Linked DNA regions of Homo sapiens. The protein of the gene in region 4 purifies or fractionates together with the protein of the main gene of each other region. This does not show direct contact. Each region holds a gene or a part of one and is shown on either strand. Other genes may lie near its edges. The genes, in order: MGA, ING3, ZMYND8 and KDM5C.

Region 1 (7,051 bases), on a different chromosome or scaffold from region 4:
TACTTTCTACTTTTATGAATATTTTGCAGTATTTGTCTTTTTTTGTTTTGCCTATTTCACTTAGCATAGTATTCTCTAGGCTCATCTATGTTGTCATAATTGGTATGATTTTCTTTTTTTTATTGAGATGGAGTCTCAAATGTAGTCAGGTGTTGGTATTCTTGGGTGGTCCTGGAACCAATCCCCCAAGGATATCAAGGAACATTCTAAATACATATGAATAATTCTGATAAGTTATCCAATTTGCCTACAATTCTAGATCCTGAACCCAACTGATTCTCATTACAGAAAAATGATGTCACTTCACAGAATGTAAAAGCAGTTGTAGTATATTTTATAGTGGCTTACATTTATCAACATCTGTAGCATTCCACAGAACCAAGATGTTAAATCCAACACCTGGCCCATCTCAATCTTCCTTTTATTTCTAAGAACAGAAAAACTACTACTTACCATTCAGAAATCTCTTGCTTCAATTGAGGAACTTCACTAAGTGCTGAATCAGTATCCATGAAACCAAGAAAGTCTCGTTTTATATTAAGGGAAGTCTTCTCCAAACCCTTGCCTGATGTTTCATGACCCCTTGACAAAGGATCCAAATCACCTGGTTGTATCTCTGACCCCTGACCTTCTGTAAGACGGACCCGATGACCAGAAGAACTGGAAATATTATTCCCTTCTTGGTCAGAGCTGTTCTTTTGTTTTCCATCTCTCTGGGGCTTATTATTCAGCCCATCATCCCGAAAGCCTTTGGCAAATGGATTGTAATCTATTTTCAGCTGAGTAATCTGAATGTTCTGATAAGCTGTTACTGCAAAGAATTCAGTCTGTGGGAAGGTAAAAGTGTGGACACCAGGGCCATTTAATTGTATCACCTCCACAGCCTTTTCTGCAGGCACCAAATGAAGCCTCGGCAGGTAACGATGCATAGAGTGCAAGATGATATGCCCTTCTTGGTCCAGTGTATTGTTGGTAAGTTTGAGTTTATAGAAAGATACTGGTTGATGCATCCAATAATGACCTGTGGAAGGAGATTCTGGATGAATGAAAACCCTCCCCAAAACATGAGGTTCAGCCTTCCCACTAGGTTCCCACCAACGACCATTCCACTTATAACGATGGTTATCCACAGGAGATATATCCATGACAAGAATATACTTCAAATTTGAATCTAAACCTGTTATCCAATAACGACAGTAAGGAAACATGCGTCTTCCTTGCTTGGTCAGAATCATCTCTGTGCTTCGATGATAGAACTCATTCCACATACTATTGTTATCGAGGGTAACAGTGATTCCACCCACAGTACAATCAGCTGGAAGGCAAATCTTCCCTTTAGATTTTACTGGTGATGACACACTACTAGCCAAAGCACAGGCATCCTGATTAGTAACCAAAATTCCTTGATCAGTTTTGCCATTTCCTGGCTGCTTTAAGATGACAAAGAAGGTAGGTGCTGCTCCTGCCACTGTTCCACCATCTTGATTAGCCAATATAATCTGCTGTTTCTCCTCCATGATTTCAGTAGGAAACTCAGTAGTAAGACAACTGTAATCACCACATAGTCACAATGGCCTTCCCATCCTAAGAAACAAGCAAAAAAAAACCAAAAACAAAAAACACCCTTTAATCAAGTGAGTATTTATTTCTTGAACAAAAATACAAGAACGATTATGTTATCCCCAAAATATTCCTAAATTCTTCTAAGACTTTGCTTCTAAGCTTTTCTTTCAATCACAGTAAGAATATTTACTCTGGAATATCTAATCATTTTTTAAAGTTCATTTTAATCTAATTAGTTAAGGTGCTTATATCCTAATCCTCTAACAATTCACTATAAATACTATAATCTCACACAAAGAAACAAAAGAGTATATTCATTATTAAAAAAGTATACAAAATTAAAAAGTTAAATTTGAAGGTTATGCATTTTTAAAGCATCCTAACACTTTATGAATTTACCAGAAGATTCCTTTATATAGCAAGTTCCCCAGTGATGAGTAAATTAAATAAGTAAAGTTCCATTTTCATCCCAAAGAGCTAATTGTACAGAATTAGTTCTTCATATGGTTCAGAAGACATGGTTCCATAAATAAGTAAAAAGCTATCTAACTTCTTAGTACACACGTTTAAAGAAGCCATGACAAATCACTGGAACTCAATGGACCTTACACTGAAATAAATTCCAGATGACTCTAATATTTAATTTTTTTATTCCTAAATCCTGAGAAAAGTTTTTTGATAAGACACAAAATCTAAAACCAGTAAGGCCAAAAAAAAAAAAAGTGATAAATTTAATACTATATGATGCCAGGTGTGGTGGCTCACACCTGCAATCCCAGCACTTTGAGAGGCTGAGGCCAGTGGATCATTTAAAGCCAGGAATTCGAGACTAGCCTGGCCAACATGGCGAAACCCCATCTCTATTAAAAATTAAAAAATTAGCCTGGTGTGGTGGTGCACGCCTGTAGTCCCAGCTACTCAGGAGGCTGAGGCATGAGAATCACTTGATCCTAGGAGGCAGAAGGTGCACTGAGCCAAGATCACGCCACTGCACTCCAGCCTGGGTGACAGGGAAAGACTCCGTCTCAAAGAAATAAAAATAAAATAAAATTTAATATTCTGTAAATTTTTTAATCTGGCAAAATCATTTAAGCAAAATCAAAAAGCAAACTAACCAGGAAAAGGTATTTGCAACTTATAAAGAACTCCTTTCCCTAATATAAAAAGGGGGCTGGACATGGTGACTCACACCTATAATCCCAGCACTTTGGGAGGCCAAGGCAGGAGGATTGCTTGAAGTCAGGAGTCCCAGACCAGCCTGTCCAACGTAGTGAAAGTCCGTCTCTATTAAAAAATAATAGCGGCGGGGGAGCAGTGGCTCACGCCTGTAATCCAAGCACTCTGGGAGGCCAAGGAGGTCAGATCACTTGAGGTCAGGAGCTCAAGACCAGCCTGGCCAACATGGTGAAACCCTGTCTCTACTAAAAATAAAAAAATTAGCTAGGCATGGTGGTGTGCGCCCATAATCCCAGGTACTCGGGAGGCTAAGACAAGAGAATTGCTTGAACCCAGGAGGTGGAGTTGCAGCGAGCCAAGATGGCACCACTGCACTTCAGCCTGGGTGACAGAGCGAGACTCTGACTCAAAAAAAAAAATAAAAATACATTAACAGTAATAATAATTTTTAAAGGCTTCCTACAAATCAACAAGACCAAATACCTAACAGAAAAATGAGTAAAGGATAATAAACGCAAATGGCTATGAATATGTACATAGTTAAGAGGAAAGCAAATTAAAGTCATCTTGAGATACTGTTTTTTTACTTATCAGACTGGCAAAAATCAAAGCCTGGTAGTGCTGGAAAGGGTTAGGTCAACCAGCATTCTCCCCTAAGCAGTTACTGGGAGTATAAAATAATAGAATCTCTAAGAGAGGGCAACTTGAAAATATCAAAAGTACAAATCCATATATCATCCTATGACAAAGAATTGTTCCCAGGACTTTAAGTTTTCTTAATTCACTGTTAAAACCCACTATAGGACTTTATTTTAAATACACACACCTGTGATAAATGATATCTATACAAGATTATCCCCTGCATTCCCACTTATAACAGCAAAAGACTAGACAGGAAGAGAGAAGTCCTTAAAATGGTAAAACAAATGATGACACATCCATAGAGTGGAATGTTAACAGTCACAAAAGAGAATGTATAAGCTTAATGAATGCATGCAAAAAGTATCTACAAGATATATTAAGCGTAAAATGTTCAGAAGAGTTGTAAATTATGCCACACATCTTTTAAAAGTTTTTTATTGTACCTCTTAAACTTCAGACAGGGAGAACACGTGCAGGTTTGTTTACATGAGTCTACTGCATAATATAAGGTTTGGGCTTCTAATGATCCCATCATCCAAGCAGTGAACATAGTACCTGATAGGTAGTTTTTCAACCCTTGTAAAAGATTTTTCCTTTTTAAAATCAAAGAAATAGACAGTATTTCGGTCTTTAAAATAAATAAAAAGCCAAAGAATGAAAAAGAACATGTACATATTTGCTTTACACAGACTATCTCTGGAAAGACAGAAAAGAAAACAGTAGTATTGGTCATATCCAAGGAAAACTTGATGACTTGGAAAAGATACCCTTTTACACTTTGTAAATTTTGTGTCTTGTGAACACACAACCTTTAAAAACTAAAACACAGGCCAGGTGGGCAGGTGCAGTGGCTCACACCGGTAATTCCATCACTTTAGGAGGCCCATGTGGGAGTAACGTTTGAGGTCAAGAGTTCAAGACCAGCCTGGTCAAAATAGCCAGTCAGTCTCTACCAAAAAAAAAAAAAAAATAGCAGGTATGGTGGCCAGGAGGCTGAGGCAGGAGGACACCTTCAGCAGCCCTGGAAGTTCAGGTTGCAGTGAGCCATAACCATATCACTGCACTCCAGCCTAGGAGACAGAGTGAGACCCCGTCTCTTTAAAAAAATAAAAAATAAAGTTAAAATTAGTTAATTATTAAAGGTTATAAAGAAAAAGGTCACATATATTGTATGATTCCATTTATATGAGATGTCCAACACAGGCAAATCTAGAGAAACAAAGTAGATTAGTGGTTTCAGGGGAAGGGGTAACTGGGACTAACTGCTAATGGGTGTGGGATTTCTTTTTGGTGTATACTTTAAAATGATGAATTATATGTTATGTGAATTATATCTCAATAAAAAGTTATAATAAAGAAATGAGGCCGGCCATGGTGGCTCATGCCTATAATGCCAGCACGTTGGGAGGCTGAGGCAGGAGGATCGCTTAAGCCCAGGAGTTTGAGACCAACCTGGAAAACACAGTGAGACTCCATCTCTACAATGGTGTGTAGCTGTAGTCCCAGCTACTTGAGTGGCTGAGGTGAGAGGATCCCTCGAGCCTGGGGGTGGGGAGGCCAAGGCTGCAGTGAGCTGTGATGGTGCCACTGCACTCCAGTCTAGATGACAGAGTGAGACCCTGTCTCAAAAAAAAAAAACCAAAACGAAATCTGATTGCTAAAATCAACCGAACTCATATGCCAAATTAAAGCTACAGCTTCCAGTTTTTATACAAAAAGGAAGATGCTACATCACCACCACTCCTGTGTAAGTGGGTCAGTAATCTTAATCAAATTCAGCCACTTATTAGTCTTCTTCATTATAATTAAAAAGTATTTTACCTTTCATCAGAGCTAATGATGAGCAGCAAAAGCACCTAATCTGAATTTTACCTCTTCTTACAAGATTGGTCATACAGCTCCAAAGCTTAAAATATCTGTTAGTCTACAGATAATAGATATTTTTAAAATCACGACTTCAAAAGGTTTACTATTGTTTCCTATTATGACTAGAGATAAAAATAGAAATTCACTTCCCAACACTAAAGCACTAATATCAGGAAAGGTCAGGAACAACAACAACAAAAAATCTCTCCTCTGATGTGAAGTTTATTTTTAAAAGAGATAAAATGTACAGTGATTCTTTTCAAAAGCTGCCTCAAGCTTTTACCTATGAAGTTGATTGGTTTTCTAAAACTAACACACTTAGGCGATACCTATCAGAGACTGACAAAACAAAACTAAACGGAAGTCACAAATAAGGTAAAATATTAAAGCTTAAAGAACTGGCAAAAAAAAAATACCTCTACAATGATGTATAATTCAAACAATGCAAACTCCTAGCTTGTACTTATTAATTCATAAACTTCAAGGTTTTATTACAAATCACCAACTATTTTTGTGAATAAGTATGCAAAACATCCTTTGTGTGTATGTGTTCCACGTGAGCACAACATCCTTAGGTGCATTTCATATGACTAAGGCAGCAAAGAAGTATATGAAAAAAAATCTAGTTATCCCAAACCTATAAATTACATGAAAAGGTGCCGAATTTATTAAACATCTTTCTATAAACTAAAATTTTGGTTTTCAGATCATTACCAGTAAAACCAAGACAGAGAAGTTTTAACCAATTCTTTAAAAATTACTGTCTTTTAAAGATTAATCTATGAAATGTCAAAGATGCAGTTGACAAAAACCCAGTTTGGTGAAAATCAGACTGCACTTGAAGTAAATTTTACACTAACTTTATATACACACACTGAGTTTTTCTTTCTGCCGAAGCAAAATATTAGTGCAGAGAAGTCATATCAACCTATTTCAACTTTGTGCACAGGCATATAATAAAAAAATGTAAAAATGTGCCTGAAGACAGGAAAATAAACTTCTGACTTATGATTTGTATAAGGCCGGTTTTTTAACTCCACTAATCAAATTAATCCATTAGTTGATGAAAATGCATTGAATTAAAGACTTAATTTATGACTAAAACCATCTCTATCTTGAGCCATAACAGCTACTGGTTTAAGAACATGGAATGAAATTCTTATTCTACATCAATCTAGGCACAGATTCCACTTCGCTATAAGCATATGCCTAGGTTTGGAGCTACCATATGAATTTTCTTTTTTTTCTAAGATAAATATTGTAAAACATTTGAATTTTCTAATCAAAGGGCAGTCAATTAAGGATATTCAGCTGTTTCAGACACACCAAGACCACTCTAAAGTCTACTTAAGCCAACCGCAAAACTCAAATGTACTTTAGAAAGGGGTAGGCTAGGCCGGGAGCGGTGGCTCGCGCTTGTAATCCCAGCACTTTGAGGGGCTGAGGCGGGCGAATCACCTGATGTCAGGAGTTCAAGATCAGCCTGGCCAACATGACAAAACCCTCTCTCTACAAAAAATACAAAAAATTAGCCGGGCGTCGTGTTGCGCACCTGTAGTCCCAGCTACTCGGGAGGATGAGGCAGGAGGTTGCAATGAGCCGAGATAGCACCACTGCATTCTAGCCTTGGAGATAGTGTGAGACTCGGTCTCAAAATAATAACAACAACAACAACAACAATAATAATAATAAAGAAAAGAAAAGGGTAGGCTACTCATGAAGAAATAAATCTTCTAGCAACATCCTAAAAATACTCTGGGAAACTAAAAGCTTTAATGAAAACCACAATTTTGGTATATATATA
Region 2 (7,051 bases), on a different chromosome or scaffold from region 4:
AATGTATTTGGTTTTCCTTTTTCTTCTTTCTCCATATGTATACTTTAACCAGGTAAAGAAACTGTATGATTCATTAATCCTGAAACACTTTATTTCCCCTTACTCTAACACAAACAAACAAAGCAATCATATTTAAGAAAATTAACTTACCTAGTGTATTTTCCTTAGAGGCATCTGACGTAAGGGTGGATAGAAGAGCTTCAGATTTAAATTTCTTTTCAGGAATATGATCTGTTGTCGTATGGTGAGAAGTTGGATTATATTTCCTTTCTAAATATAAATAAAAAATTCATGTGTTTTTAAACTTTAGAGAACTATGGACAAGGCATAATACTTATATCCAGTTAAAATGTGAAACAGTATGATCTGGGTTCCTCATAAAATACAGAACATGATGTTTCCTCAGAAGGCAGGACAAGCAGAACTCTGTGTCACATGTTTATTAAGAGTAGACTTCTCCACCATTTAAAAAACTTCTAGCAAAGTACTAAAGATAACCCAAGATACACCATGGGCTCACATACAATGTGAGGGAAATTTTGTTTTCAAAACACAATCTACCACTTAAAATAGTTTCCCACCAAATTGATGTGTCAAAAGATGTACTGATATAGTCATTTTTTGACTGTTACCAACCAGCCAGCCAGTCATCTAACTAACAATTCATCCACTCACTGACTTACCAACCATTCAGACTTAATTATATGCCAAACATTAGGTTAAGCACTGGAGAAGCAAGGATGAAAAAGACAAAGGGCCTATTACAAAATAGCTTATTGTTTGGCTCAGTTGAAAAGCTCCCTAAGGAGAATGCTCAGTTGAAAAGCTCCCTAAGGAGAATCAGGTATGTGTATGAAGGGAATATATGCTATTAGTACTATACATTCTCCTTCTACGCATTTAAGAGAAAACAGAATACTCATTTCCGAATCACATATGCTCCCCCCAAGGAAAAAGACAAGTCTGCCAGTACTTGCAATGAAAAAAAAAGAAGGGATTTATTTCTCAATTGGTTGTGTAGAGTTAAAAAAAGAGAACATATAGGTGATATAATAAGGTTTTCATTGTTTTTAAAACTTAGCTGCACTACACCAAACTTACTTTCCACTGGAGTATGTGAATGAGCATGGTGATTGTTCACTGGCTGTGAAGGAGTGTCTAATTCCAAAGATCCTAAAAGAAGAGAGGCACAGAGATACACCACCATTAAATGTCACCGCAGAACTTCACATGTCACTCAACTACAGGCAATGAGTTCCCTTACCCAGCAGAGGACTAGCAAGTTCTGATGCATATGCCTGTATTTATTTTAGCCAGACATGTTAGAGGATCACCACTGTCCATCCCACACTGAGTTATCCTCTCTCTAAACAATAAGTTATCCTTTTCCCAATATTAATCTTAAGTACAAAATGGCTCAAGGCATACTCGTGTCTAATTAGGGAATTCACCATAGTGGGTGCCATATAAATGGATGAATGGACATTGTAATCTCATTACTGGTAAGAGTCAACCTAGTTTTACTGAGTTGAAGACCTTTTAATGGGAGATTCTGAAGTTCTACGTGATGGGGGACATTACTATATGAAAAAAATTATTTGATCATTAAAATGACATTATGATAATAAAGACTTCCTAAAAGAAGTTAGGGATTTTGTTCGCAAAAAGTGAGGAATAGAATCTCTAACACCAAGCTTTAAAATACCTCTAAATACATTTTTCTGGGTTTATTTTTGATCCCTTGAGATGAAATTATGGCAGGGCACAGGGTGGAGCAGTTTTTATAACTTGATCCAATTTTGTTTCATATGTCTGTGTCCTTAGAGAGGATGCTTTATTAACCTTCCTGCAGTACTGAATAGGCATGAATTATCATTACTCACAGCTATCATCAGCATTTTTAAAAAATCAAAGCAGATACAGAATTTTTAATTTTGTCTCAAAATACTTATTATCTTTATATAGGGTTCCTCCAGAAGAAAAGTATCACAAATAAATAGGATGATTATCTAAAGTGATGGATCTACTTTTGAACACAAAAATGCAACTATGGATACCAAGACAGATCTGTGATTGGCTTCCCTAGCTGACTTCTAGTGAGTAGAGAGATACATAGATTGGCACTGTAAAGAAATCTTTCATCTGTGTGTAGAAACAGGTACATATTCTTACTGTTGAAATGCACCAAGAAAAAGAAGGTTTGTAAGTTTTAATTAAATTCTAGTAGAAATTAGCCATAATATTAATTTGGTTCAATTAACATCTAGTGAGTGCCTACTCTACACCTAGTACCACACTAACTGCTTTTATGTACATTACCTATTTAGGTTGAAGAAATGCTAAATTAGTTAAGGAAACAGTGCTCATGCTTCCATTTTTGGGAAGTCACACCAAAGAAGTGACAGGGGTAAGTTATAGCAGGAGATCAAATAGAGCCTTGCAAAGAAATATCAAAATGGTTTCTTGCTGCTAAGGGAAAGAAGAAAACACTTCTTTAAGAAAAAGAGGTAGTGTTATGAAACCAATGTGAGTCTTTTTCAGTATATGCAGTTAAGGAAAAGCCATAAAGTAATTCTTAAGAAGAGAAACTAACAACTTTCCTCAAAGCTTAAGTGTATAAAGAGGCAGAGTAAAGTCAACACACTTAATGCAAGATGGTTAATTTGTCTCCCGATGGTTACATTTCTTTAAATTTGTTCTTACCACTCAACTTACTAGTATATGTGGATATAAAATGATTTAATATGTTGTTTCATAAAGAGTGAGTGGATGATATCCTATATTATCTCTCTCAGTATGCATGACCCAAACATTTCCAACTGTTAGGGTCCAAGCTATCTGGCCTGGATGCCACCATCCATTGAAGGGCAGGATTTCAAAAGCCTCTGTGGGACAAGGTCTTCTCAGCGATTTGCACATGTACTGTCCAATATTGATGGAAAACTGTAAATTTTACTTACGCCTCTCTAATATTTCTGTAATTCCAGCATTATCAGCTTCCAGCTCCATTTTAAACTTAGCCAGTTCCTGATCCAGCTTTCTCAAGTGTCGATCTACCTGTTTCAAAGAAGATCAAAGATAACCACCAAAATTTGGGACACTGTTAAAGTGTCAGCTTAATGAGGAAACCTAAATTTTTGTTTCTTTTAGTGAATCTGCTTAGTATCCTTGAGCAAGTCAATTAATCTATGCCTCAGAGGTTTTTAATCTATAAAATGAGGGTGTTAGGCTAAATAATCTCCCAAGTCTCCTTCAATAAATTTTAAGTTCTAAGACCCAGACTCTCAACTTGTTAGGAAATGTTCTATACTCCATTTTCAGAAGTCAGGACATGAAAATTAAAGCAAAACTGATTAGGGATTAGAGAATGGGAGGAGGGGATGGTGGAGGCTGGTCACTTTTCATAATATGCCCTGTGATTACTTAGAGCCTAATCTCCTCCTGCTTATAAGGCCATCATCCACACTGTCATACGATAAAAGCTATTATTTAGAATGATGAAAGATCCTCAGTCTACAAAGAAGTTCCTATATTCTATACATCTATTACTCTAAGGCATGAGAGTGAATCATAATGCTTGTAAACATTTATGTGAAGAGGTGAAACAAAAGGGATTGTTAGCCAGAAAACTCCATTCCTCAAAGGATCTGGTTAAAATTATTTTATTTATAATACTATTTCCCTAGTTAACTTGGCAAAATTTTATTTTGTCACTGAGAGATCTTTTGACTAATTTCAGAAAATTATATGACACTTCAAACTAACAAAAAATGTCTTAATGTATTTTTTAAACTTAATATTAAATATTTTAATATTTTTTCAAACTCATTACTTTGAAGTGAAACCAAAAAATACACAAATTCTTTGAAAAATATTCATGTCACATTATTGATAACATCCTTTTCTAAGTCTAGTTTCCCACTGGATTACTGCTAGAATTAGAAATAACTTTCTTACAGATATCAACATGTGCTATGATACTCTACCAGGGCAACATTTTAAGTAAGGTTTAGAATTAAATAATGTGTAACTAACATGAGGAAGAAGGGGAGAAAGGTAGCAAAACACAATGTGCATGGGTTAGATGCCTATGAAGAGGAGGTAATGTGCTTGACGCATCAGATGACCTATCTTTTCTAGCCCTCGATCTGATCTTTTGAAGTTATTACTGTCTCTACTTTATAGGTGAAGAAATTAAGGCTCGGAAGGGTTACTTAAGTAATATGCCCAAGGTCATATAGCTAATGCATTACAGAAACCAAATTTAACTTTATTTGTAACAAATTCTGCTTTGCCATTTACCTGACATTGACCTCTGAACTTTCTGCATGCAGAAAACAACTGTTTTTTTTTTGAAAAACATTCTTCAGAATAATATAACTCAAGTATAAAAACTAGTAATATTGTCCTATTATTTGTATTTTATATATTAACAACAATCATTAGGGTGTTGGTTTGTGATTTTTTCAAAAACTGAAAGCCAGTTTTCCTTCTACCTTTACACACACATTACTTTTCAGAGTTCTAGAATATTTAAAAACCTATAACATCACATATTATGGATACTTGCTCCTATTCAAAGAATCTGCAGGTAATTGAGCATCCTTTAATGGAACTTCCTTTCCAATAATAGTGTGAACACAGACGTCTGTTATTTGAGCATACCTCTTTCATTGTCAAAATTTAATCTCAAGGGAAATCAGAAAAAATATTCATATTTAAGTTCCAAGACCACTAATGCAACGAAAACACTCCATTGCTTTTTGTACCTACAATTATACTAATAATAAATATTGAGCTATTACGTGCTTGGTGCTGGATTAAATGGAGGATATATGAAGAATGGAAGAGAATCATTGCCTTCATAGGAATTAGAATTTAGCTGACAAATCAAGATTTATATATGATTTTTAATATAATAAGGGATAAAAATATAGTCTAGATGTCACAAATAAGCAACAGTTCAAAAAGAGTCAGAAGTTGTACATAAAAAAGTAACACTGGTAGACACGAAGGAGGTACGAATTAAGACGGTGAAGATGGATTGTATTCAAATAGAAGGAAAAAAGGAATCACAATAAAAAATGTAGAGACAGAAAGACAAACAGTATGCTTAGAGAAAAACAAAGTATGATGTAGCGTGTAATATGTATATAAAGCACAGTGAGCAAGAATGTTAGGTTGAGGGGGTAGTGTTAGGGTGAGATAAAGACCTTTCTTTTTCATACCATACACCTTGCCCTAACTCACTTCACCTCTGCATTTAAGGATTGTTTCATTTTATTAAATATATTATTGATAAAGTTCACTACATATGAAAATGTTAAAAATAATGACAAGACTTTCAATACTAGATAGCTCAGAAAAGGCACTAGAACCTAAAGGGTTAATAACTCTAAAAACCAAATTCATAGTTAAAATAAACAAAGACAGAAAAGCCTTAACCACTTGTGGTAGGCATCTTTATAAGACGGCTTCCAATCATTCTTACTTCCTCATATGTAAAAGAGATTATGACCTGATTAATATTATAAGCAATTATTAGGCAATGAGCATTATTTTTCTTCTATTTACTACTGCTGTACTAAATCAAATTAGAAGTTGGAAAGTCCCATTGACCACAAGAATTAACTTAAGCTATAAAGCACTAGGATATTTAAACAATATTAAACAGCCATAATAAGAGCTGTGAACTTGCCTGAAATCCATCATGTGCATTCCCTCAACCTACATGATTCTGAACGGTTACAGCACCTCTTCTAGCTGATCACCATGTTGTCCCCACAGGCATCAAGCAAAGCAAGGATGTAAGTTACCTCACCCTTCCACAAACATCTGCTTTCATAAGACTGATTTACAATAGTAAAGAGGGTACTGATCCAATTGAGAGATTTTCCATTAGCCACAGATTCCTAAAACAGGGCTAACCACAGAGTCTAATTATTTCTTTTTTTCCCAGTTAATGTCAACAAGTGCTATAAACAAAGTTTCCTTGCCCTATAATCCCAAATCATATTCTACAACCCCAAATCATAACAGCTTTAAGTTTAAACTCCTATAATTTTTCTAGCCTCTTTAAAGACAAAGGATATTCTACCAACATTACTTGTTAACACACTCATGATCATAGCAAATTTAAGTCATACTTGGCCCCTCTGCACAAAACAAACAAAAAATCCTTCATCCTATAATATTTGCATAGAGTTGTAATCTTTGACTCTTTCTTTTTTGACTCTCTGGTTTTCTAATATTCACATTTAAAGTGTATCACTAATGGACCCAAACAAAACTAAATACAGCTTTTTTAAAGTCTCTACATGATCTACTGCTTCCAATACAATCAATTTATAAAATTTAGATGTCTAGCTTGCCCTATCGGAAGAGGCAATCAAGTCTGTTACATTCTAAGTTGAAATAGACAGCAGTAAGTTAAATTTCTAACCATGAAAAGGTCTAGTAATAGCGAGTAAAGAGGGTAAATTGGGGAAGAAGAAGAAACCATGATAGCAAAGTATTTCTCAGATAACAGGTCATGAAAATGATTCTTTATATCTCTAAATTAGATTTAAACTAGATGAAAATGTGACCTATTGTTATGCTGAAACAAATACTTGAGAGGCCTTAGCATATAACTCTGTCTAATCATCTTCCTGAAAGACAATAAGGACAGGACAGAAATCAAAAGGTCAAACTCACATATTTCCTTAATTAGAGTATCAGATGAAAACTCTCAAATTTATAGGTAAAATGTGCATCTGAAATATAACCATCTCAGGAACAGGCCAGGATATAAAAAAAGAAGCAAGTTCAAGGGTATTGAGCACTGCAAGAGACTGCTAAAATCATTCAAGCATTAACTAAAAGCTCAAATTTTATCAGGGTATGTATAAATCAACTTTATTAGGTATTGCAATCCAATACATCCTTATGACAGTGACATCTGGCTGAGAAACACAAATAAGTATTTAACAACTATTTATGAGTATCATGCTTCTAGAACAAAACTATTTTAACAGGATAGATTTTTGTGTGTGTTAGTCAAATTTCACTA
Region 3 (5,037 bases), on a different chromosome or scaffold from region 4:
ATCCTCAGTGCCTGGACAGTGCCTGACGCGATGTGTGTTTGCTGATTGGCAGGAATGAACTTATGCCCACGCGGGCCAACCTCCCCTGCCGGCCATGTCATGTCTTGGCCCTTGGCACAGGAAGGGGTTTGTGGAGATCTTTTCTGGGGAGTTACTGGATTGCAGAGAAGGAACACTGCTGCCCAGGAAACCAAACCTCAGCCTTTCAAGCCGGCTTCATTCTACTCATACCCTGTGCACCTCCAGCCAGGCCCAGAGCCATGGACCAGGGCACCTGCGAGGGGCTGGGATCCTTGCTGCCCACGCGAGGCCTGTTAGCTCGGCCTCCCTACGGGCTTCAAGAAGACAACTCCGTCCTCTCCCAACTGTTTGACGAGGACTGGCGTGGGGGGCACCCACTAGGGCCCATTCTCTCCAGTGTGCCCACCACCTGGCTGTGGGGGGTGTTCATGACCTCTCACGGCCCCTTCTGTGTTTGGTCGTGCAAACCTGACACAGCCATCCCGACCAAATGGAAAACTGCAAATTCGAGGACGACCACGGCATTTTTCCAAAACAGTTTAATTAAAAAAAGGTAAAGAAATCTGAAAAAACTGGGGGGGTGGGGGAAGGAACGGGCAAACCCAAAAAAGCATATAGTGTGAGTCTACTGGCTCAGTCACAAAGAAACACCACCATCAAAAAGATATTTAAGTTTAATACAAATTTTATACAAAGAAAATGTGAAAAAATACTTCCATATGCTAAAAGCAATTATGCTTCACAAATAAGGCCAGCTAGGCTATTTTTTTTTTTTGACAACTGCAATTCACAAATGTTCTTTCTCTCCTGTTTTCTTCTAATACTCTCTTATTTCTTCTCTAATATGGGTAACTAGCTGGAAACTGTACAGTTCGCATCCTCTTAACAATGAAGAGAAAGTAAACAAGACTAAAATGTACAACAAAACGTACTGGAATGATATCGTACAATTAATTTTCTCATATACATACATCACCTTTTGCTTTTTCATCAATGCTTTTTGTTTTACACAACATACAAAATGGCTCTACAGCATACGTAGTGTACGGACAGCATGACGGGCCTTGCTTTCTCTCATACTGCCTGTGTTTCATGCTTACATAAAAACGTGAAATTCCATCATATAAATAATACGTACATGCTTCATCCCAGACTCAAACGTCCTCTGCGTGCACCTTGCCTTTGAGTCCTTGCTTCCAAGAAGCACAGCATCTCTGACCAAGTGTGTGTGAGTGTGTTTAAAGGAACCACAAAGCAAAGATAAGGTTTCTCTTTTTTTCAGAGTTCATGATCCTAAGACTTTCTGTGTTCTCTCCTGTGACTGAGCTGAGTGGGGCTTGTTTGTTTCTCTTCTGTAAACAAGGATATTGTTTTTTCCCTTTTAGGAGTAGAGTCATCATTTCAATCACATGAAAGAAACTAGCTTCTCCCTGTGTCCGTCTGGTCCGGAGAGCTTGCGTTTTAGGAACGTGGTAACGTAGTAGCTGAAAGGAGCCAACGGCTTGATGGGATAGTCTGTGCCGAAACTCCCGATCCCAACATGCTGCGTACAGACACACGAGCGAAAACGGTTCGCCCTCCCCTGGGTATCCAAGGATGAGGACGTGAGTATGAAAGTGGTCCCCGGGCCCAGTATCCATTCCGTCGTGTGACAGACAGGCTAACTGACCATCCCTTCTCCAATACCAAAACATTCTTTTTTGTTGTTGGGGTTGGTTGCTTTTTTTTTTTTTTTTAAATCGTTTTTCTTTTTCTTTTTTTTTTTTTAATAAGTTAAAGTTAATACAAATATAAAAAGGGGAAAGTCCTCTAGATTCAATGACATCCACAAATTGTACATTATTTACACCAAAAGCACAGGGCTCGTGTGGGTGAACAGTCTGCAGTCAAAGCCGATGCTGGGTGTCCTGTAGTGTAGCAGCCCCCGCGCCGGGGGCTCAGGCTCAACTGAGGGTTTTGTCATTTTCAAGTCTGAAAGTGGCTGTTCTCCTGCCTTTGTTGTTTCTTCTTTTCCTGGCGTCTGGGTTTTTCTCCCAATGGGGTGGGTGGTTTGTGTCCCGATTCACTGCTAGTCCCAGAAGGTGTCCAGCCGAGACTCTTTCGGGAGGAGGCTCTTCGTGCTGGTACTGGTGTTGTGATCGGAACGTGTCGATCCCCTCTTCTCATCACTGCTGCTCCAACTGGATTTATTACTCCGGGAATGGTCTGAGGGGGAAAACCAATGTGTTTAGCGTGCCTGCCCACCTGCGCCTGAGCACAACTATCCTGCAATCTGACCTGCCCCTCCTGCACAGGAAACCACCTTCCCCTCCCAATTGATGGTTCAAACACTGCCACCGCTGACTGCCCTGCATCTGTGGGTCTGTAGAACAGAAAGGTAGAACAACTTATTTTTTAGGATTTAACGACAACCGGTTGAAAAAACGGTAGGGTGTCATGCTCACAGAGAATAAAGATTTGTAGAAAAGGTGCTGAACTGCCAAGGAAGGCATTTCTTGTGCCGTGTCTGGAACCGTGTATCCTTACTACATCACTGAACGACACCAAGCACCCCATGCACTTCTGGGTCCAACCTTGGCCCCTGGAGAAAGACACTGAAATTTGGCATGCAGTCTACTTCCGTTAGTGGGATTTCTTTTATCAATGTATAGGCAACTTGAAAAATGGCCTTACAACCAAATCACACTTGTCCACCCAAGGGAAAGGATCATAAAGGAGAAGAATGGTTAAGTCCACCTGGGAACACACACCCACTGACTCCCGGTAAGGACAAGCTTATGGGTGACTGAAGAATTCAGAATCAGAATAAGACCTAGGATGGCTTCAAGGACACATGGACAAGGAGCTGAGTAGTGACTGAGTAAGAAATAAGTGAAGAAGCTGAAGGAAGAGCCGAATGAGGTGTCTGTGAAGAGCACTTTAGCCAACAGCCCAGCCCAGATCTGCAGCTCTGCTAGATGGCTGACTGGAGAAACCTTCCAGCCAAGCCCTAAGATCCCATCACATCCTGGATCATGTACTAAGTTCAGACAGACTGGGACAGAATTATTTTTTAATTTCTTAAGGTGGGTGATAATGTTTGGTTGAAAGAGGTTGAGGGCAAGAGTGGAGTGGGCCAAGGAGGGGACCATGCTACTACCTAGGGGGGCTGCATTTCTTACTGCCTGGTAAAAAGGCATGTGTGGGTAATCATGAGTTCTGGAAGATAAGCAGTGAAGAGAATGACAAAGATCTCCAAAGTCATGTAGTTACTCAGGAGAGAACTCTTCTTAGTCATGTGCATCAGTGACCAAAAGGGAGCAATACTATGGTAGGCAGAGCTGGGGGCAAGGGCGGAGTCTTCTTAACAATCCTCAATCTGCCTTCTTATGCCTTCTTCCCTTAGCCGCCATGCCTATGCTTTTATTTCTCCGGAAGGACTCTGGGGAGTGATGCAGCTGGTCATCCCCATCTGGGAGAAAATCCTACAGTGATGTGGTCAAACCACATCAAGTCCTTCCAGCTCTGGTGAGGGCAGAGACCACCAGCGGGTACTGGAAGAAATGGGACCAGGGCCAAGCTGAGTTCAGTATCTCTCTCCCAGAACCAGGCTGGCTAATGGAGGGATCTGCAGGCCCTCACTCCTCATATGGAGAGGACACGGGACACTGGCTGCCATAGCCAATCACCACAGGAGGGAATCGGTGTTCATCTAGGACCCTTTATGAAAAGAGCGAGGACGATCTCCATCAAGAAGCCAGGCCACATGCTCGCTCTCATTTCCTAATGCAGTTTGTGATGGCGACCAGAGGCACAGCGAAGAAGAAACGTTGCAAAGGAAGACCCACAACTCAAAAGAACAGGAGAAGACACACCCACAAAGGAACACATACACGGACACACACAGAACAAGCCTTCTGCATACCAGGAAGAAGCCCCGGCAGCTTTCGTAAGACAGGTTCATACTTACACTTCTGGGCGGGGTAGTTGGGGTGCGGCTGGTGGTCTGTGGTGGTTGGGGCATAGGCAGGTTGCTTGTCACACCTTTTGCTAACTGAAGAGATAGCACAGGTAGCCTCAGAGTCTGTCAGAGAGCTGGAATTCCGCACAACCCCAAGTGCTTACTATTTTTGTTCATCAACAGGCTACTGTTATTAGAACCAGTTGGCACCTTCATTCATGTCACCATTGTCCAACTTTAATGCAAGCACAGGAGACTAAGTCTCTTTAAAAATGCATATCAAACCACAAACAGCATCACTGGACACAGCACAGCATTACAGGTAGGAAATAAGGTATACAATGACATAAAAGCAACTCAGCATTTTGTAAGCCACAAATTTTCAACCACTAGCTCTGCCAATAGCCTAATTCAACCATGGGAAACGGAGGCAGGCACTAGAAACGTGCTAAGGTTGAAGGCAGCACCCGAGAAAGCCAGACAATTTAAGGCAATAACTCATCAACTGCCCACAGTGATAACAGAATAGGGAGGAGAGGATGGAGAAGGCACACGTGATGAGGAGGACTAAGGAAGGGGCTCCAGATGAGGTGGCAAGTAAGCTAAATTCTCAGCTACGATGGTAGCACACCAACAAATCACCTCTGAAATCAGAGTCAAAAAACAGTGATATGAAAGGAGTCTCCGTAAACAGCTGATACCGTGAGAAGCTTCATAGGAAAACAATTGAAAGTAAGATCAAGAGAAAAAATAGAAACTCCAGGAAAAAGGCTATAAAAGAATGGAATATAATCACAGTACACTATGTGACTCTGCCATGAATGATATGGTCATAATCATACAAGAAAGAATTGTCACACTGCAACTTTTTAGACTAAGCCAACAGACAAGAGTGAGGCTTAACTGCAGTTATAGGACAGAATGCACATGTTCTCAACCTTGACAACGGGGAAAGTCACAGGACAGGTGGGAAGCCTGGCTATGACAGGGGTGGGAGAGGTAAGGAGAAGATGGACTGCCAAAAGAGGGGTCAAGAGATACTGTCTGTAGCAGACAGAACAAAAGAGCTAAGGAGG
Region 4 (2,601 bases):
CAGGCTGAACCTAGACCTGAGGAGCCTCCTAACTACCCTGCAGCCCCTGCTTCTGACCCCCTCAGAGAGGGCAGTGGCAAGGATATGCCTAAGGTGAGCTACTCAGCCCAGCTCTTGTCCTCAGATTCTTGTCTCCTAGCCCCTACCCCAGTTTAGGCTCGGCCCTGCCCCTTGTTCTCCAATTTTCAGTTTTCTTTGGACCAGCCTTCCTACTCCATTCTGCATCTGTCCAGATTCCTAGACTCTGCTCCCTGCTGGCAGCCTGTGTCTTCCCTCCTCCTCCAGAAGGCGGAGGGTCTCAAGTTTGGGGTTGGCGGAGGAGGAATAGGGCCTGGTTCTTCACTTCAGTTGCCCCTACCTATTCTTGCTCTCCTCCGCAGGTCCAGGGCTTACTGGAGAATGGAGACAGTGTGACCAGTCCTGAGAAGGTAGCCCCGGAGGAGGGCTCAGGTAAGAGAGGTAGGTCTAGGTGTGGTGTGGGTAGGCTGTTGACTGCACATCACCATAGTGACCCATGTAGTCCTCAGCTCTGTTGTAGTGGTGGGGATAAGACCAAGGGCAGCCTCTAATGCCGCTTGTTCCTGCAACCTCCTAGATCTGGAGCTGCTGTCCTCGCTGTTGCCACAGTTGACTGGCCCTGTGTTGGAACTGCCTGAGGCAACCCGGGCCCCCTTGGAGGAGCTCATGATGGAGGGGGACCTGCTCGAGGTGACCCTGGATGAGAACCACAGCATATGGCAGCTGCTGCAGGCTGGACAGCCCCCAGACCTGGAGAGGATCCGCACACTTCTGGAGGTGAGGAGAGGGGTCATGGGCCGGGCCAGGAGGTCAGGCCGAGTAGGGAGCCCAGGCCTGACCACTGGCCCACAACCTGTCTTTCTGCCTGTCTGTAATCACAGCTGGAGAAGGCAGAGCGTCACGGGAGTCGGGCTCGGGGCCGGGCCCTGGAGAGGCGGCGGCGGCGGAAGGTGGATCGGGGTGGGGAGGGCGATGACCCAGCCCGAGAGGAGCTAGAGCCAAAGAGGGTACGGAGCTCAGGGCCAGAGGCTGAGGAGGTCCAGGAGGAGGAAGAGCTGGAGGAGGAGACTGGGGGTGAGGGCCCCCCTGCACCCATCCCCACCACTGGCAGCCCCAGCACCCAGGAGAACCAGAATGGCTTGGAACCGGCGGAAGGGACCACTTCAGGCCCCTCGGCCCCTTTCTCCACTCTGACTCCCCGGCTGCATCTGCCCTGCCCACAGCAGCCGCCTCAGCAACAGTTGTGACAGTGGCTGAGCCTAGCACAGACCCTGACAGAGACCCCCCTCGGCCTCAAGGATCCTCTTTCTGACCATCAAGCCTGCTTCTTGGGGGGTGGGCGGGTAGGGGGGTGGCCATCCCTGCTACCCGCCCACCCCTGAGTCCCTTGACTTTTGTATTCTGACTCCAAGGTATTGTTCAGACCTCAGCTCCTGGGGGCCGGCCCCTGGAGTCTTCCCTCCCTGGTAGCCTCTAACCAGCATTCCCAGACACCTGAGGCAGATAGATGGATGGGCTGGTGGGCAGGGGGGTGGCTGGGGCTGGGCCATCACCATTCCAGAGACAAGGCCAGTGTATATGCAAACTGGGGGACTCTCCTCCCTTCTCTCCCCAGTTCTGGTCCTGGCCAGGCCATGCTACACTAACCCCTGCCCCCACTCTCCTCCCCTCTTTTCCTTCCTTCCTACCCCCTTCTCCCTCTCCCTTCCCCTGACTGTTCCACCCAGGAGGAGGAAACTTCACATAGCCGTGCTCACAGTTTTTTATTTTAAAGGAATTTGGCTGGGGAGCTGAACAGGGCTCCCTGTGATCTGAAGAAAGCTTTTGGTGCTTGTCCTCACAACCACCTCAGTCCTCCCTCCCTGTCCTCCCCTGTCTCCTTTCCTCCTCCTGGGTTCATGTTGTAATAAAAGAAGATTGTTGGTGTGTAATTAATTTGTTCAAAAGAAAAAAAAAAGCAAAACAAGAAACTTGGTTCCAACTGAAGCCTATTTTAATTTTATTTTATTATTTTCCTCTTGTTAGAAATAAAACCCTTAGAAACATTTTTTGGAAACATGTTTCTGAAGTGCATTTCTCTTAGACGGGGAAGACAGTGCTTCCATCACCAGTCAGTGGAGCAGCTGTAGTGCTGGCAGGAGCACTAGGGCTGAAGCCAGGGAGCTCTGGGTTCTGAAATCAAGTTCCACCAGCTTCTTAACCTTGGGCAAGACATTCTGATCCTCCCCCGACTCTAACCCCAAGCCACTTTCCCTCAAGTCCAAACAGATGGGCTCGGGCCCCCTCACCCAAACTCCTACACTACAACCTCCCCCAGTTGATGCCCTCCAGTTTATCCTCCTCAAGCTCCCAAAGGGATTTTTTTGTTAATGGCTTTATTGAGATATAATTTACATACTATAAAATTCACTTGTTTGAAATGTACAATTCAGTGATTTGGGGGGTTTCTAAAGTGTAGATCTGATTATATACTGCTTAAAACCTTCCATGATGCTTTATTGCCCTTAAGATTATACATAGAATCTCGTTCTTCCTAGAATGTTTTCCTGTCTAACCCATCTACTGCATAATTCCCTGATTTTT

Evidence for each region.
Region 1: the proteins of KDM5C (region 4) and MGA purify together in Homo sapiens (affinity purification with mass spectrometry; 2 studies listed by BioGRID and IntAct, with this or other methods). This does not show direct contact.
Region 2: the proteins of KDM5C (region 4) and ING3 purify together in Homo sapiens (co-immunoprecipitation; 2 studies listed by BioGRID and IntAct, with this or other methods). This does not show direct contact.
Region 3: the proteins of KDM5C (region 4) and ZMYND8 purify together in Homo sapiens (affinity purification with mass spectrometry; 2 studies listed by BioGRID and IntAct, with this or other methods). This does not show direct contact.

What each region holds. Positions count from the first base shown.
Region 1 is NC_000015.10:41,663,361-41,670,411, reverse strand, and holds part of MGA (MAX gene-associated protein), read right to left. Parts: intron 1,585-7,051; 5' UTR 1,518-1,584; coding exon 454-1,517; intron 1-453. UniProt on the Homo sapiens protein: Functions as a dual-specificity transcription factor, regulating the expression of both MAX-network and T-box family target genes. Functions as a repressor or an activator.
Region 2 is NC_000007.14:120,960,748-120,967,798, reverse strand, and holds part of ING3 (inhibitor of growth protein 3), read right to left. Parts: intron 3,058-7,051; coding exon 2,961-3,057; intron 2,544-2,960; exon of another isoform or gene 2,328-2,543; intron 2,097-2,327; exon of another isoform or gene 1,966-2,096; intron 1,174-1,965; coding exon 1,102-1,173; intron 271-1,101; coding exon 151-270; intron 1-150. UniProt on the Homo sapiens protein: Component of the NuA4 histone acetyltransferase (HAT) complex which is involved in transcriptional activation of select genes principally by acetylation of nucleosomal histones H4 and H2A.
Region 3 is NC_000020.11:47,208,672-47,213,708, forward strand, and holds the end of ZMYND8 (MYND-type zinc finger-containing chromatin reader ZMYND8), read right to left. Parts: intron 4,055-5,037; coding exon 3,971-4,054; intron 2,227-3,970; coding exon 2,090-2,226; 3' UTR 543-2,089; downstream 1-542. UniProt on the Homo sapiens protein: Chromatin reader that recognizes dual histone modifications such as histone H3.1 dimethylated at 'Lys-36' and histone H4 acetylated at 'Lys-16' (H3.1K36me2-H4K16ac) and histone H3 methylated at 'Lys-4' and histone H4 acetylated at 'Lys-14' (H3K4me1-H3K14ac).
Region 4 is NC_000023.11:53,191,631-53,194,231, reverse strand, and holds the end of KDM5C (lysine-specific demethylase 5C), read left to right. Parts: coding exon 1-93; intron 94-380; coding exon 381-459; intron 460-595; coding exon 596-795; intron 796-899; coding exon 900-1,265; 3' UTR 1,266-1,394; coding exon of another isoform or gene 1,395-1,488; 3' UTR 1,489-2,074; downstream 2,075-2,601. UniProt on the Homo sapiens protein: Histone demethylase that specifically demethylates 'Lys-4' of histone H3, thereby playing a central role in histone code. Does not demethylate histone H3 'Lys-9', H3 'Lys-27', H3 'Lys-36', H3 'Lys-79' or H4 'Lys-20'.